Regions from separate parts of the Homo sapiens genome. Here region 2 is linked to region 1. Evidence: fine-mapped expression QTL. A gene starts in region 1. The other region holds a variant in brackets. All regions are shown on one strand. Distances are between the middles of the regions. Region 1 holds the start of CD247 (CD247 molecule). Region 2 overlaps CD247 (CD247 molecule).

The links. PIP is the estimated chance that this variant, and not a neighbour inherited with it, causes the effect.
Region 2: its variant is the best candidate, but not a certain one, in a credible set for the expression of CD247 in whole blood (INTERVAL, PIP 0.78).

Annotation. Positions count from the first base shown.
Region 1 is chr1:167,516,430-167,521,953 of GRCh38, forward strand. It overlaps CD247 (CD247 molecule), which reads right to left and starts at 2,100. Exons shown (of 8, transcript NM_198053.3): 1 at 1,979-2,100. The coding sequence starts at 2,036. It also overlaps the pseudogene AKR1D1P1. RefSeq lists enhancers at 497-1,460, 732-1,931.
Region 2 is chr1:167,486,691-167,491,690 of GRCh38, forward strand. The region is part of intron 1 of CD247 (CD247 molecule); the gene reads right to left. Among named protein-coding and RNA genes, the nearest start is that of CD247, 29 kb to the right of the region's middle. The variant G/A (reference allele first, on the strand shown) is at 2,165.

The DNA.
Region 1 (5,524 bases):
ACAGCTTAGTAAAAAGTAGACATTTTAAAAGGGATGTATGCAATGGGTCACTTAACTGAGCAAGAAAAGAGAGAAGACCTGACTGAAATTCTATGTGCGGCCTTTCCTCCGGGGAGACTGTGGAGGTGTCCCCTCAGGCAGCAAAAGCACCATCGCAGCCCTCGGTGTCAAGGCCTCTCTGAGTCGCGCTTTGCCTTACCGTACCTCGTTTCTGGGCTAGGATATTTTGAAACACTTTTGTCTATTAGCTTTATCTAAAATAGCTAAAATATCAGTCTCCATAGAGGCAAAGTAAGTGGCACTGAGAAGCAAAAAATCCAGCCAATGTGCAGTTTTCTCCTCCTGCCCCCTATTTGTGGAAATGAGGCACGGCCCCCATCTTGTCTGCTGGGTGGGGTTCTGTTTACCACGCTTGGCAGCCACCGCCACCCAACAATCTTTCATTTTTCTTTCTAACTTCACTTTGCCCCTACCTTGGTCTCTCCAAGCCGAACACAAATGGACCAGTGAGGAAACTGCAGGTAAAGACCCTGAAAGGTTATATGAGCTCCCTGGTGTGGTGTCTCAAGCCTGAAGCTCAGAGGCTGGAGCTATTGCCCCTGGCTGTCTCCCCTGAAGTCACTAAATTCCAGCGTTCTGGGTCCCCTTGTCCCCAGCACACAAGGATGGGCTGCTCTGAGCAAGCTCAGGCACCCTCACTCTGCCACACTGTGTGTGTGACTTAGACCCCACAAGGCTTTTCTGAGAAAACAGCTGTGACCTGACAGAAACCCCTGCAGCTGCACGGGCCTCAGAATCCCCCGAGGCGCTGGCCCGGGCTGTGCCTGGCTCCCTGGTGGGAGCAGAAGTGCCCATGGCCTCTCCTGCCCTCCCAACAGGGCCCCTAAACAAATTCCCACACCCAGGTGAGTTACCAGGAGCGATCAGGTGGGCCGAGGACATTTGCTTGCTTCACCTTCCCTGTTTCTTTAGATTGAAATTCAGCCTGCCCCACTTCTCAGGAAGATGCCACGAGGCTGATCCCCCTGAGCAGTTTGTCCTGTCCTCTTTTCACTGGTTTTCTTCCTCATTACCTGGGCTAGAAAACATGGTGGAAGCTAAAGGCTTGCAGCAAAGCTGGGCTCCCACGATCGGGAATGAGGTGAGGAGCAAGCACTCTTGTTGGCTGGGCGCTGCTCGTGGTGGTGACTTAACCAGGCACATCGTCTCATCTGCCCCGTGTTCTGTCAATGCCGGGCCCTCTGGCTGGGCTAGATGGCCGCCTAAGGGGCAGGCTGGGGTGAGTCACGGAGCCTGGGATGGTGCGTCACCCGGCAGTCCCAGGCGTGGGTGTGGGGACAGCCATGACAAGGCTGAGCCTAGACACGGACGCTTGGCCATGAGGTGGCGAAGGCGCTGTGGAGGCTGCCACCCGGTGCTTCCTGCCTGTGCCCCTCTCCTCCTTGGTTACCCCACTTACTCCCGGGCCCATTGGAGTGTTTCAGGCCATGACCTTGACTGACCAACAAAATCTTCTTTGTTGGCAAAGGAAGAAAGAAAGGGGCTGAGTGACGGAGCCAGCCAGAGGGTGAAAGAAGCTGAAGGGACTAGAACGTCGCAGCACGAAACATGGCCTGGCTGACATTTTCCGATCCTGTCCAGCTTCTGTGAAACACTCCCTCTCCGTTTCTCTACCCTGGGCCTGCCTCGGTTGCTCTCTTGCTTCCTTCTTCCTTCCTCTCTTATCACTCGAAAAATCTGTACCTGGAGGAGCTGTGTATTCTAGCAGCTGGCTCTGAACTGATGCCCAACTCGGCTGTGACGGAGCAGATGCCAGCACCGGGCCGGACCCCTCACTGCTCACTTGCCCATTGATTTGAGGAGGGCAGGATTTGAAGGAGACCCCAGCCCCTCACCACCCTCCACTACCCACACCCACTCCCCTACACATACACAAAGAGTTTCTAGAAGTTCCCTGCCGTCGACACGTCGGCCCTACCTGTAATCGGCAACTGTGCCTGCAGGATGGCCGCGGTGAAAAGCGCCTTCCACTTCATCTTGTCCTTTCCCTCAGAAAGAGGCTGGGAGGCAGAGGCTGAGGCAGCGGTGGCCGGGACGGTTAGGAGAAAAGGAGTCTCTGCTGGTTTTATTCTGCAGCTACCTCCCCAGGAAGTGGAGGACTGTGGGGCCTTTGAGAAAGCACCTGCCGACAGGGCCAAGAAATTCGCACTCCCCCTTTCGGTTCACAGGCAGGAAGCCCTGGAGGTTTGAGGGTTTGGGGTGTGTGTATGTATCTGTCTGTCTGAATTTTGCTTTTTCTCTCATTTGACCATTGTTTTAATGCTCCTTTTTTTAAAAAAAATAATTCTTATCTAATTCCTATCTTGATTGGTAAAGTCCATCTCTAGGCAAATACAAGTTCTCGATGGATGTAAGAACATTTGCTGTTTTCCTAGACTGTCAAATATTTTATGGTGGCTGGCAAAATGACAGAACCCTGGATTAGAGTCCAGGACAAATGTAGAGACAGATTCCTTGGGCTTTAGTGACATCTCTGCCTACCACCTACTTGCTGTGTGGCGTTGAGTCAGTCACTCAACATCTCTAGACTTCAGCTTCCTTATCTATAAAGCAAAGAGCTGGAGTAGATCTGAGGTTGCAGATCTGAACTTGGCCTGAATTTGGATCATTGTGTGAAATACTGTAGCTCACATAGTATTTTAAACACTTGTGTTAGTTGTCAACATTTAAACACCAGAGTAATTTACAATAATAAAACATTAAAACCTAGACATAAACTTCGTCTAAAAATTGTAATATATCTATATGAAACAAACTTTAAAACATTGCTGAAGAACGCCGAAAGGACTTGGGTAAATGGAAAGGCATACCCTTCTTTGATAGGAAGCTCTCTTTTAAGGAGACCACCATTCTCTCTTAATTAATCAATCTATTTCATTGAAAATACCAACAAAAAGTTTTAGAACAAGTTAAGCTGATTCCAAAATTGATATGAAAAAAATTAATGTACAAGAATAGCCAATAATCCAAAGTCACAGCAATCCAACATAAAATTGATAAATTGGACTTCATCACAATTAAAAGTTTTTGTGCATCAAAGGACACTATGAAGAAAGTGAGTCCTGCAAATCACCGCATACCTCTAAGTGATGGAAACAGCATTCCCATCATCAGACTTGGTACCTACTCAGAGCCTAAATTGACCCCTAAGGGGGCCGATGACTTACTCAAGGCCACACAGCAAGTAGGTGGTAGGTAGAGATGTCACTACAGCCCAAGTAGTCTGTCTCTACATTTAGTCTGAGTCTTCATCAGTGAAGGTTGTCATTGGTCTGGGGTGCTGACACACTGATGAAGCCTACATATACCAAAATGAAGACACAGCTGGGGAGGCCATCAGGGGGAAAATAGCAGAAGGAAAGGTGCAGAGGAAGGATATCTTCTACTGTGGAAAACTGTGGGCTACAAATCACAACCCAGAGCTGGTCTGCCCGAGCCTAGAGAGGATGCTCAAGGTCCTCCAGCTAGATTGTGTGGATCTTTACATCACTGAAATACCCATGGCCGCTAAGCCAGAAGACAAAATCTACCCTATAGGTGAGAATGGCAAATGGTTATATCACAAGTCAAATCTGTGTGCCACTTGGGAGACTTCGGAAGCTTGTAAAGATGCTGGCTTGGTGAAATCCCTCGGAGTATCCAGTTTTAACAGCAGGCCAGCTGGAGCTCATCCAGAACAACCCAGGACTCAAACCCAAGCCAGTCAGCAACGAGGTTGAGTGCCACCCATATTACACCCAACCAAAACTTTTGAAATTTCGCCAACAACATGACATTGTCATGATTGCATATAGCCCTTTGGGGACCACTAGGAATCCAACCTGGACAAATATGTCTTCTCTGCCTTCGTTAAAGGATGCACTTCTAAAAAGGTGCAATAAGATCACAGCTCAAGTTATTTTGCGTTTCAACATCCAGCAAGGGGTGGTTGTCATTCCTAAAAGCTTTAATCCTGAAAAGATCAAGGAAAACCTTCAGGCCTTTGACTTTTCTCTCACTGAATCAAGGACATTGAAGCCTGGAGTGAAAATGTCCGCTTCATAGAAATGCTCATGTGGTGTGATCATCCCAAATACCCATTTCTTGATGAATACTGACTTCAGAGAGTTCCTGAACAGATTCTCCCCTCCCACGTGTGGAGGACCTTAGGGTGCATAGTTCCCCATGGACACGGAAATGAAAGAGGTTTTATTATCTGAAAAGTGGTGATGGAAACATGCTTAACTTTTGTATAGTGTAAGTGATTTTAACTCACCCATGTTAAAGACAAAATGTTTAAATCTGTTGAAATTCTTAGGAAATTATCACCTAATATTTTATTAGATAAATGTCTTCTGGGTTCCAGACCAAAAACAAAACAAAACAAACAAACAAACAAAAAACAATTAGATTCCAGAAAAGACTTGAAAGGCAACAGATGACAACCAGCAACAAGTAACTCATGAATGTGGGTAGTAACATTGTTAGCCTGAGTTCTTTAGCAGTCAACAGGACAACAAAGACAGCAGAGGGCCCCCATGTGCCAGGGTGCTGGCAGTGGCCTTGAGGACTTGAACCATTGACTGCAATACAGACACAGCCAAGATAAGATCCAGACATGCATTATTAACAAAAAAGTGATTTGCTGCACCTTGAGTAGGGAGAGAGGGCTAAGTGTAGAAAAGTCTTAAAATAGAGTCAATTAAACACCACAGTGATCAACAAAGCCATAAGGATTTTATTGTTGTTTGTTTCTATCCGATGTATGTTTGTTTAGCTTTTACTCAGCTTGAAGGATGCATACTTGCTGGTTCTCTTTTGCATCCTCAGAGGGTCTGAGTTTCAACATAACTAGTGGTCCATACTTACATTGTCTTATATTCACTCTTGCCACATTGATCATCGAATCACCATTACGTGAAGTGGCTTGAAACAACCAACATACATAAATAAAACTCTGCATCATAAAGTATTCCAAAGACGGCTATTTTAAAACAAGACATTTTATAAGGGGACTTTAGGAGACATATTGAAAGAAGAGGCTTTATAAAAGTACTATGCTTAAGTCTTTAAGAGTGTTATTGGGATAGCTATGTGAATTTTGAGAAAATAGCACGTTCAAAAGAACACTGGTAATTGTACTCTATGTAAATTTTTAAAGAGAATAAAATTATTAGAATTCAACAACAGAGATGTACCTATTTTCAGTTCAACTACAGAAATATATTTTATTCATTCATATTAGATCACTCTCACAGGGCAAGAGAGTTCTTCAAAAATTATGCTTTTCCAAGACCAATTGCTTATAGATAATCTTCAATGACCTGTACACATACATTTCTGAGAAAGTATCACTTAAAAACTTGATCTATACTGATTGTTTTCACTGATTCCGATGTTAATACTTACAATGCTTGTCCTCTAGACAATACTTTGTTCACAAGAAATCATGAAATATGATGACAAAGAAAGACAAAAGAAAGAA
Region 2 (5,000 bases), 30 kb before region 1:
GAGAAACCCCCTGCAACCCCCAGGAAAGAGCTCTGGCCACTTATGCGGGCCACTGCAAGCTGCTCTGATACCTCTGTGTGAGTTAGAAATGGCAGCTCTGGGTGGGCATGGTGGCTCGTGCCTATGTAATCCCAGCACTTTGGAAGACCGAGGTGGGTGGATCACCTGAGGTCAGGAGTTCAAGACCAGTCTGGCCAAGATGGTGCAACCCCGTCTCTACTAAAAACACAAAAATTAGCCAGGCGTGGTGGAGGGTGCCTGTAATCCCAGCTACTTGGGAGGCTGAGGCAGGAGAATCACTTGAACCCCAGAGATGGAGGTTGCAGTGAGTCGAGATCATGCCACTGCACTCCAGCCTGGGTGACAGAGCAAGACTCCATTTCAAAAAAAAAAAAAGGAAGAAAACGGCCGGGTGTGATGGTTCACATCTATAATTCCAGCACTTTGGGAGGCCGAGGTGTGTGGATCACGGGGTCAGGAGTTCAAGACCAGCCTGGCCAAGATGGTGCAACCCCATCTCTACTAAAAATACAAAAATTAGCCAGGCATGGTGGTGGGCGCCTGTAATCCCAGCTACTTGGGAGGTTCAGGCAGAGAATCGCTTGAATTCGGGAGGTGGAGGTTGCAGTGAGCCGAGATCGTGCCACTGCACTCCAGCCTGAGAGATAGAGTGAGATTCCATCTAAAACAAACAAAAGAAAAAACGAAGAAAGAAAAGGCAGCTCCATGGCAGGCAGGTTCAGGCCAGCTGATGCCCCTTCCTCCAGGTGGGCATCCCTGGACCCACACTGCCAGGGAGCAGGTACAGGCAAGTCCCAGGACCCACTGGCAGCCTCAGCCTGGCACCTCCATCCAATGCTTAAACCGCATAACCTTACTGGAGGCACTGACCAAAGTAGGCTCCGATCTCAGTCTATGAGGCAGGCACAACCCACCATTCCAACAACACTAATTGAGTGCCATTTCATGACACAACAGCATTATCAAAAAGAATGAGTACCAGGCTAGCAGTGAGAAGTGTGGGTCCTACTCCCACCACACTACCTTGTTTTTTTCGAGACAGGGTCTCACTGTGTTGTCCAGGCTGGAGTGCAGTGGCACACGATCACTGTGCACTGTGGCCTCAAATTCCTGGGCTCAATCAATCCTTCTGCCTCAGCCTCCTGAGTAGCTGGGATTACAAGTATCTACCACCACATCTGACTAATTTATTTTTAGAATTTTTTTTGTAGAGATGGGGGTCTCACTATGTTGCCCAGGTCAGTATTGAACTCATGGCCTCAAGCAGTCTTCCCCACTCGGCCCCCAAAGGGCTGGGATTGCAAGCATGAGCCACTGTGTGCCAGCCCCACAATACTACTTTCTAGCTGTGTTCCCCTGAGGAACTCATTCAAACTCAGTTTCTCCAGCTATCACATGGAAATAACAATTGTTACCCCAAAAGGTTTGTTAAAGGCACAAATGAGATGATAATATGAGCACTCTATTGTAAAGTGGAAATCAGGATACAGCTATAAGAGATGATGATCATACATTCTAAGAAAATTTTGAAGATAATTTTACTGCTAAGATGTGTTAAAGAAAAATAATTCAATGATACCTGTTAAAGCACAGTAAGGCAGACTTCATTCAAAACTGTCATGATAGGTAGAAGGATGATTGCAATGGGGTCTTGCAGTGGGACAGAAAGATTGGGCTCAACTCCAAGTACAGCAAGTGGGCATTTATGCCAAGGAGCAGAGTAGGGGGTCAATGGATAGAAAATTCCCAAAAAGAGTGAGAGGGATTCTGGCTAAACCAACCTAACAGGACTCTAGCTGAACACAGGCCAGGGGGATCAGACCTCACCTGGGGGATGGAGTGGGATGAGGACCCTGATCAGACACTGAGGGGAACCGGATATTGAAGGTTGATGGTTGTGCTCAACTAACTGGGCAGAGTTCTTTGCTAAACCTGGATTTTGCAAGAAAGTACACAGATGGGCCTAGGAGAAAGTTTGGAAGCCTGATTAAGTTTTTGTCAAGCAGGGAATCTTTAGCAGTTGACATAATGACAATATTGAGAGATTTTTGAAAAATATTCTCTCTGATGGAGCCCAACAAGTATTTCCCTTTCTGCATGTGCGTGCGTGTTTTTATGTCACGTACGTGAGTATGTTCTTGTA[G/A]CTCAGACAGCTCCGAATAAAAACCCAGGGAAGCGAGGGTGTGCTGAGCCCAGGGAGGGCCTGCCAGGAGGGTTTTCTGAAGGATGGCTGTGGGCCGGGCCTCTTCTGAGAGGGCTGAGGGCAGCTGCTTCCCTTGCCGTTTGATTCATTAGTCCACACCTCGTGGAGAGGTAACTTGAAAGGCAGCGCCGAGAAGCACGTAATGGATTTGTGAGGTTTTAACACCGGACAGCAGACAAAAGACTAATAAAAATCCGGGGCAGGAATTTCCCAAGAGGGAAGTGTCACAGTGGAATAAAAATGAAAGAGATAAAGGAGAGTTCCTAGAAGGATCCAACCCCCCTTCCCCACCCCAAACTCTGCTTATAGGTTCTTATATGATAATTTAAACTATATATGATATTAAATTAGCACTCCAATAGCAAAAATAAAAGTGTTCCCACATCACCTTCTTTGAAAATATTTATTTAAATAGGATGAAATGTTATTGAGGGCTTTTGTGTCTAGAAACAGGGTTAATTAAAGATTTCCTGCCTGCTTTGTGGGTAGGTGACACTCTCATTGAGATAGCAGCAATGCCCTATTTAGTGGTCTCTCAGCTTTCTTTCTATTCATCTGGTTTGGTAGTGGAATTCCATGGGAAGTTTGACCCTATTCAGTGATGAGAGAAGCAAAATACTGTTGTTCACCTAGAGGCTGTTTGCTCAGAAAAACAGGGTGTCAGAGACATGGGACGCAAACCCAGAGTGACATAGCGCAGGGACTTGGCTCACTTTTCTGAGATCTGTAAAATGTGATGTGACTGGCTCTCAGAAAGGAGGCTGAAGGGTTCCTGCCCGATTGGTTTTCAAAGGGCAAGAGCCCCGCTGCTGAGGAGCTGCGGCTTTGTTAGACAAAAGCCCAGGGCAGCCCCCTCCTGGGCTCAGCGTTTTCCCCACCTCCCCCTTTCTCACAGGCGGTTTCCCTGAAATGAAAGAACTGTGATGCATTTGCGCCTTCAAAAGCAGTTTTTAAAATGCATTAAACCCAAGATTGAATACCACCCAGTTCGGCCTCTGACCTGTGCCCGCGCCGAGGTTTCTGGGCAGCCAGGCCCAGGGAGGAAGCTGGCCTTTTGGCCCCAGGAGGCAGAGCCAGTTTAGCTGCCTGTGCCCCCCCACCACCCCACCCCTTTTTTTGACCTTCTGGCCCAAATAGGGAACTGTGGAGCGCTCATCTTTGTGTCCTTGCTAGTACACAGCCTCCCTGTGAAAGCAAGCAATGTCCCCAAGCAAATCCATATATCCGGGACCTACGGCGGCGGAAAGATCGGGTGCATTTGGAAGGCACGGGGCCTGGCCTCACATTTCCAAAAGCAGTATTCCAGACTCTGCCTGCAAAGCTTCTCCACCTTCCCCGTCATCTGACCTCATCTTTCTTAATTTTTCTTCTCTCATTCTTTCTATCTTCCCCTCTCTATCTCTTTCTTCCTTTAGAAATTATATTTGAGGCCGGGCGCGGTGGCTCACGCCTGTAAGCCCAGCACTTTGGGAGGCCGAGTTGGGTGGATCACGAGGTCAGGAGTTTGAGACCATCCTGGCCAACATGGTGAAACCCCATCTCTACTAAAAATACAAAAATTAGCTGGGCTTGGTGGCGCACGCCTGTAGTCCCAGCTACTCCGGAGGCTGAGGCAGGAGAATCCCTTGAACCTGCGAGGCGGAGGTTGCAGCGAGCCGAGATCGCGCCACTGCACTCCAGCCTGGGCAACAAGAGCGAGTCTCCGTCTCAAAAAAGAAAAAAAAATTATTTTTGAAGGTCGGGTACAGTGACTCACGCCTGTAATCCCAGCCCTTTGGGAGGCTGAGACGGGCAGATCACTTGAGGTCAGGAATTCGAGACCAGCCTTCGTCTCTACTAAAAATACAAAAATTAGCCTGGTGGGGTGGTGGGTGCCTATAATTCCAGCTACTCAGGACGCTGAAGCAGGAGAATCGTTTGAACATGGGCAGGAGAACTGTTTGAACATGGGAGGCCGAGATTGCAGTGAGCTGAGATCACACCACTACATTCCAGTCTGGGTTGACAGAGCAAGACTCTGTCTCAAAATAATAATAAATAATAATAATAATAATAAATAAAAAGAAATTATCTTTGAAAGAACTCATATAAGCAGGCTAAAATTAATTTGTTAATTTGTCACATTTAAAATAGTCTATTTTATTCTATATTTACAATTTTTGAAATCCTAGTTTTGGCACGTCTTGCCTCTTAAAAAATTTATATCACCCTTTACTCGTTGGAATGGCTACTTGTTTAAAAAACAGAAAATCACAAGTGTTGGTGAGGATGTGGAGAAGGAATGCCGTGCACTGTGGGCGGAAAGGTAAAATGGTACAGCTGTTGTGGAAAACGGTTTGGTGGTTCCTCAGAAAGTTAAAAATAGAACTACTGGCCGGGCGCAGTGGCTCATGCCTGTAATCCCAGCACTTTGGGAGGCCAAGGCGAGTGGATCACCTGAGGTCGGGAGTTCGAGACCAGCCTGACCAACATGGAGAAACCCTGTCTCTACTAAAAATACAAAATTAGCCGGACATGGTGGCCCATGCCTGTAATCCCAGCTACTCGGGAGGCTGAGGCAAGAGAATTGCTTGAAGCCAGGAAGGGAGGTTGCAGTGAGCCAAGATCATGCCATTGCACTCCAGCCTGGGCAACAAGAGCGAAACTCCATCTCAAAAAAAAAAAAAATAGAACTATCATATGGTCTAGCAATTCTACTTCTGGTTCTATACCCAAAAGAATTGAAAGCAGGGTCTTTAAGAGATATTTGTGCACCCATGTTTATAGCAGCACTGTT